Homo sapiens: one gene and its partner. The protein of the gene in region 1 purifies or fractionates together with the protein of each later gene. This does not show direct contact. Each region holds a gene or a part of one and is shown on either strand. Other genes may lie near its edges.

Region 1 (3,500 bases):
GGCTTCTCTGTGTCATCCCCAGGTACATGTACCCCTCCATGGATCAGCTGGCTGAAATGCTTCCTGGAGTCCTTCAACAGTTTGGGTAAGAGCGAAGGATCAGCTCCTTCTCTGTCTGCAGAGAAGCCTGGTTTCTAGCATCTTCCTGCCCCTTGGCTTTGATCTGGACTGACCACTAAAATTAAGGTTGCAATTTAGAGATGAGGCAAGAAATTAGCTCGTCACTCTGTGAACACTGTTCTTCACACAGTCTCTGAGCTCTAGTCTGTCTCCTCTAACTTCAGTTTTCCTCTTGCGTGAATGTTATATTGCATGATGGCAGCTGCCCCACCCATTTGCTCTTGCCTCCTGTTCTTCCATTCCCTTCTCTTTCCCATGGAATGTTCTGGAATGGAGTTGCCTGAGTCCTTAGCTTTTCTCTCCACACCCTCATTTTTCCAGTGTTCCTCTCTGTCTTGAGCTCTTCAAAGAATGATAACTTCATGGTTCTTGCTCAATTTGTTTTCATTCCAAGTTTTAGAATCCAAAATAAAGCTTAAGAGTGGGAAGAAATGATGCCGTAACGGGCCTTCCCGTAAATGTCAGACGGTCTCTCAGAGCCTGGGTGGCGGCCAGGAGGGAAGTGAGGAGAAGGGGCGCGGCTCTCCAAGGTCGAGGTCTCTGTCCAGTCCTAAAGCATGGTGACCTCAGAGCTGTGCAGGCAGTTACGGCAGCATGCTCCCGCATTGCCTAGCCAGGCGGTCACCCTCAGGAAGTTCTAAGTGGGTCCTTGGAGGCTCCCGTCACTCTGTCCTTGTGTGACATGCATTTGTATTTTTGCTTCCAGGCTGAAAAGCATTATTGGCATGGGAACAGGAGCAGGCGCCTACATCCTAACTCGATTTGCTGTGAGTGCTTTGGCATTTTTTGAAAATCGCATTTTAAATAACATTTTAAGATGAAGGAAGACATTGGAAAAGCATCAAAAACCCAAAAGGGAAAAAGAAATGACCCGTATTCTCCACAGTTGTGTGTGTGTGTGTGTGTGGTGCATGGGTACTCGTATATATATATACTCACAGCCTTTTCTCTTCCTCCACTCAAGGATGATACTGGACACATTCCTTTGTCATGGGCTTTGTCCGCTTAGCCATCTAGTGAGGACGCTCCTCACTCACTGAGTACTCTGCTATGACACTGCTTTGTAACAGCTGTACAGGTTTTTGTAGTCAGGGCACTCCTGGGTCATAACTGATTCTAAACTAGAATCAGACACGGGAAGTTTTCATGACAGTTGTCATTGTTATTTCTCTGGGCTCAGGTCAAGAGCCACTGTTCCTTTGTATCCTCACCGAGCAATTGTGTAAGAATGCAACAATACTCATTTTGTACATCCATTGGTATTTTGACTACCTATTATTTGCTGGGCTTTGCTGGAGGTTGGGAATACTGACATGATTCTACAACATCCATCTTACAAAAAAAAGAAAGGAATGCTGACATGAATACAAAATGGTCTGGCCATATAGGCTCTCAGCAAATTAAAAATGGTCTCAACTGTACCCCAGGTGTACATATCTATATCTGTATGTATCTGCATCACATAATGACATTTTGGTCAATGACAGACTGCACATTTGACAGTGGTTCCATAAGATTATAATGGTTCATTTTTACTGTACCATTTTTATGTTTAGATTTGCTTAGATACATCAATACTTAGCATTGTGTTGCAATTCCCTGCAGTATTGGGTAGCGTCATATGCTGTACAGGTTTGTACAGCAAACCTAGGAGCAAAGGGCTGTTCTATACAGCCTTGGTGAGTTGTAGACTATACTGTCTAGGTGTGTGTAAGTATACTCTGAGATCTTCACACAATGACAAAATCTCCTAATGATGAATTTTCTCAGAAAGTATCCCTGTTATTCAGCGATGCATAACTCTGTCTCTCTCTCTGTGTGTGTGTGTGTGTGTGTGTGTGTGTGTGTGTATGCATGTGTTTATCCTGGAAGTAAGTAATACAGTTGTTACTGCCACAACTAGAGAGCATTTGTGCTGTGCGCCTTGTTTGATTGATGAGGTCGATGGTGTGTTACACCCATTTGATAGCTGGAGAAGCTGAGCCTCCGTGGGTTGAAGTGACTTGCCCAAGGCAGGCCTGCAAAGCAGCGGGCTTCCTACTTCTCCTGCACTTCCTCTTTCTCCTTCCCACTCTCTCTAGGACCCGATACCGTGTCTGCTGTGCTGGAACCTCAGTTTTGCATGGGGTGGGGCCGGGGAGCAGCAGCCTGCTCTGCTGCCCACACTGCCTTTTTCTGGGTACTTCTCTCAAGCTTTGGTTTGCCTTGGAAAGTTCCTAGTGTTTCAGATTGCTGGGATGTCTGTCTCACTTTGTGTCTTGAATTGCAGCTAAACAACCCTGAGATGGTGGAGGGCCTTGTCCTTATCAACGTGAACCCTTGTGCGGAAGGCTGGATGGACTGGGCCGCCTCCAAGGTGAGGTGGGGGCCTGTCAGGCCGGCGGGATCCCTGCAAGAAGAGGGACAGGTGCACACAGCCTCTGCCTGGGGGATCCCTGGAGCTACGAGCTCTCTCTTTACCCACTCCTCCACTACCCTCTACTGCCCACTCCAGTTCCCTCTGCTTTACTTAGAACAGTACACATGACCTCAGCCGTTTGCCATTCAGAAGACTTAAATACCACCAAGCTGTCTAAGCCAGGGAAAGCACTGGGACACAGGTCCCTGAGGCAGCTTGGAGAAGCATTGCTTGGATTAATGAGTATTAGCTGGGTACATAACTTGTGCCAGGCTTTGGTCAAGATGCTGAGCATCTTGAAGAACAAGACTTCTTGAGATGAACAAGACAAAAGCCTCTAGGAATGAATCTTAGGAATCCATTCACATATTATTAAAGAAAAATAAATATGTATTTAGTACGGACTGTGCCACAGAATTTTACGATAATAATTAGCTAACGTAGATTGAGAGTTTACCATGTGCTAGTTTCATTCTACGTTGCTGTGTGTGCATGATCTCAGTTAATCTTCATAGTAACTCTAGGAGGTGAGAATTTTTATCACCGTTTCAGAGGTAAGGACTCGGTGTGGCTAAGGGGATTGTCCAGGGTCACATAAAGCTAGGCAGTAGAACGGGGACTGGATGCAGCTTGCTTTGACTTTGTGGTTCGTGGACCTGACCACCCGTGCCCCTGGGGCTCCTGTCCAGGGTGGGAGACAGGCAGGCCTGGCAAGCAGGGTAGGCTGCCTGGAGGAGAAGGGACCTGTGCTGTCTTGGGAAGCTCTGTCCTGGCTGGTGTCCTAAGGTTCCTTGTTTATCTTTTAAAAATTATCATTGTGGTGTTTTTGTTTTTGTTTTTTTCCCTGTAAAGGCCTCAGTGTTGGCCAAGGAGAGGGGGAGGTCATTCCAGTTGAAATAGGACAGAGTCTTTCAAGCTGAGGTGATCGCAGCTTCTCATTCTGCAAGTGCATTTTTGCCCAATTTTGGGTGGCTGCCAGGGA
Region 2 (3,500 bases), on another chromosome or scaffold:
CAGTATGCTGAACAAGAATACATGCAGTACCATCTATATAAAGTTTAAGAATACACAAAACAATACTATACACTGTCTAAGGAAACACACATGTGTAATAAAGCTGTACAGAAATACATAGGAATAATAAACACCAAATTCAGAGCAGTGGTTAGCTGTAAGATTTGGGGGAAAGGAGTGGGTTTCTTTAAGTGGATTAAATTTTATGAAATATTTTTCAAACATACAGAAAGTGCGTCAATATTTTAGTTAAAAGACAGGAAAAGAAAATGGAATTAGCAGACTATGGGATCCCAAATTCCTTTATATTCCAATCTAAAAAGTCAATAACAATTCCTGCGAAGTAAGGTTAAAGGGGAAAGCATCCTGAGGAATTATGTTCAAGTCCAAAAAGAAAATTCTAGGCCGGGCATGGTGGTTCACATCTGCAATCCCAGTACTTTGGGAGGCTGAGATGGGCAGATCACGAGGTCAGGAGTTAGAGACCAGCCTGGCCAACATGGTGAAACCCCATCTCTACCAAAAATACAAAAATTAGCCGAGTGTGGTGGTGGGTACTTGTAATTCCAGCTCCTCGGGAGGCTGCGGCAGGAGAATTGCTTGAACCCGGGAGGCGGAGGTTGCAGTGAGCAGAGATCACACCACTGCACTCCAGCATAGGTGACAGAGCAAGACTCTGTCTCAAAAAAAAAAAAGAAAAAGAAAAAAAAGAAAATTCTAGTTAAATTCTCTCAATTTCCTTATGATTTCCCCGGGGCGGGGGGGGGGGGGGGGGGGGGGGGCGGGGGGGGCAGGGCAGTTTTATTTGGGGCAGCAACTTTGTGTAATTAAAACAGACATAAAACTGCCCCTAAATGTCATCACAGCTCCTTTCCCTACACAATCATGCCTTCAAAGGTTAACATGAACTTCAAACTGTCACTCCAGAGAGGAGATGCAGCGCCCAGGTTAAGAACAGGGACTCTGGAACCAAAGTGCCTGGGATGAAATCCAGCACACATTTAGCACACAATCGTGCAAGTCACTTAAATTGCTCTGTGCTTCAGTTTCCTCAGCTGTAAAAATTAGAATGATAAAAGAACCTATTTTGCAGTCAGCGCAGTAGCTCCCAGCCTGTAATCCCAGTACTTTGGGAGGGCGAGGCGGGCGGATCACAAGGTCAGAAGATCAAGACCATCCTGACTAACATGGTGAAACCCCATCTCTACCGAAAATACAAAAAATTAGCCGGGCATGGTGGTGGGCACCTGTAGTCCCAGCTACTCAGGAGGCTGAGGCAGGAGAATGGCGTGAACCCGGGAAGCGGAGCTTACAGTGAGCCGAGATCATGCCACTGCACTCCAGCCAGGGGGACAGAGCGAGACTCCGTCTCAAAAAAAAAAAAGTACCTATTTTGCAAGGCTGAGATAAAAATTAGAACAGCATTTGGCCACAGTATACTATAAAGGTGTTGGCTATTATCCTTATTCCAAAGACCATTCATTTAGAAAAACAAAAACTAGGCTTTGTATCCAAATAATATAATTAAGTTCAGTTACTTTCTGCATCAAATAGGAGACAGAAAAGTTGACCATGACAGGACAGGGGAAAATGTGCAGCTTTTCACAGCTAGAGCAATCAACATGAGGATAGTAAGATAAGCAATTTTTAATTTTTCTAACAATATTCTTTGGTAGCGTTATAACATCTCCAATGCGTACACATCTGTGTACACACACACACACACACACACACACACACAGAGGATCCAAAATCAAGGTAAAACATTCTATTTCCTGGCTCCCTGTTGACCTGGGAAAACTCCAGTTCATCTTGGAAAACCTAGTTCAGCTATCATCTCCACTGAGAAGTCTCCCCTTTTCCTTCCCTACTCTGTGCCTGCTCTGCACTTTTTCTCTATTTCCTAGCAGATTCCACTGCTGCACTGATTATACCATCCTGTAATATATTTGCTCATATACCTTCTTCTGTTCCACCATGCTGTAATTTGTTCATACACCTCTTTCCTGTGGTGAACTGTGAGCTCCTTAAGAGCAGGAACTCGCCCAATCATTTCCAAATTCCGAGTACCTTGCAAAACAGACACTAAGTAAATACATGAATGAATGAATCCTTAATAACAAATACCTTCACAAACAAGCAGAAAGCTGTATTTGGAGGCCACTTATCCAAAAGGTTGGTTATTTAAGTATCTTCAATTCTAAACAAAAATTAGCAGATCAGTTGAAACTACTGAATCATCCAATTCTTTACCCTTCAAAATGGGAAACATCAAAAATACGTAAATAAACATATTCCAATAATAACAGAAGCTAAACTTTAAATTAAAAGAATTAAGGCACCTATGATGTCAGGAAAACAGAAACCGTCTGAAAGCTTTTTTCTAATGAAACCAAAAATAAACATGTAAGGAAGGCACCACAGGATTTAACATTTACAATGTCTCCTTTTTCAGAAAATAAATAAATTACAATCAAAAGTCAGATGAAAATATATACTCTATTGAGGGATGAAATTAAGACTGAGCCACATTTTAAATCAATCACACAATGCTCTTGCAACAAAGTTTTCTAAAAGACTGTCATGAGTCAACTAAAATTGGGCTAATTTTTAGAAATTTAACAGTTCTTGACAATTTTTGGCATTTGCTTAGTACTCCATAGGTTACAGGCCTGTATTCTGTTACTGTGGAAGGTGTCCCCTCCTCCCAGCAAAGACACAGGCCTCAGTTGTACTTTGGGTCCCATCCCAACCCCATCCTTTTAGGAACTCTGCACAAACCCTTTTCTAGTCTATATTCAACCACTCCCTCTCCACTGAGCCTTCCCATCAGCATTTAAACATGCTGAAATCAAACCTATTGGAAACAGTTTCTGTCTCCGTTTTCCTCACCTCCCACTGCTCCCCATCCCACCCCTACCTGCAGATCAGCATCTCTTTCAAAGGTCACCAGTGACCTCCATGTTGCTAAATTCAATGATGGTTCTCAATTCTTCTCTCATAGGAGCATTCCACAGTACTGACTCATCGCCTTGCAGGAACATCTGTTTCTGGCTGTCCTCTGACCTTCCTGGCCACTCTTGTCTCCTTGACAAGCTCAACCTCCTCTGCCCAGCTCCATCCCAGGCCTCCTTCTCTTCTTATTCTATAGCCTCCCCACAGGCAATCTCACCCATACCCATGGTTTGAGCTCTTGCCTCTACATGGAGGTCTTCAAAACGGTAAATGGCCACCCCAATTCTCAGCACAAAACCAGTACCTCAATAAAGGCCTCAAAGGCAGCTCCAGCTGAACACTTCCAAAACTAAAGTCATGCCCTTCCCATATCCAGAACCTAGTTCTCTACCAGTTAAGCCCCAGCTCAGTGAATAGCACACATACCTCTTTAGTTGCATAGGTCTGAAACCTAGTAATCACTTAGCACCTCTTTCTCCCACTCCATTTACTATTTATCACCATATCCTGACAATTTTTTATCTCCATTTTCTCAGTATTTCTGT

The links.
Region 2: the proteins of NDRG1 (region 1) and ACSL3 purify together in Homo sapiens (affinity purification with mass spectrometry; one large-scale study listed by BioGRID and IntAct). This does not show direct contact.

The regions. Positions count from the first base shown.
Region 1 is NC_000008.11:133,255,753-133,259,252, reverse strand, and holds part of NDRG1 (protein NDRG1), read left to right. Parts: intron 1-22; coding exon 23-85; intron 86-826; coding exon 827-887; intron 888-2,389; coding exon 2,390-2,476; coding exon of another isoform or gene 2,477-2,527; intron 2,528-3,500. UniProt on the Homo sapiens protein: Stress-responsive protein involved in hormone responses, cell growth, and differentiation. Acts as a tumor suppressor in many cell types. Necessary but not sufficient for p53/TP53-mediated caspase activation and apoptosis.
Region 2 is NC_000002.12:222,864,036-222,867,535, reverse strand, and holds part of ACSL3 (fatty acid CoA ligase Acsl3), read right to left. Parts: intron 1-3,500. UniProt on the Homo sapiens protein: Acyl-CoA synthetases (ACSL) activates long-chain fatty acids for both synthesis of cellular lipids, and degradation via beta-oxidation.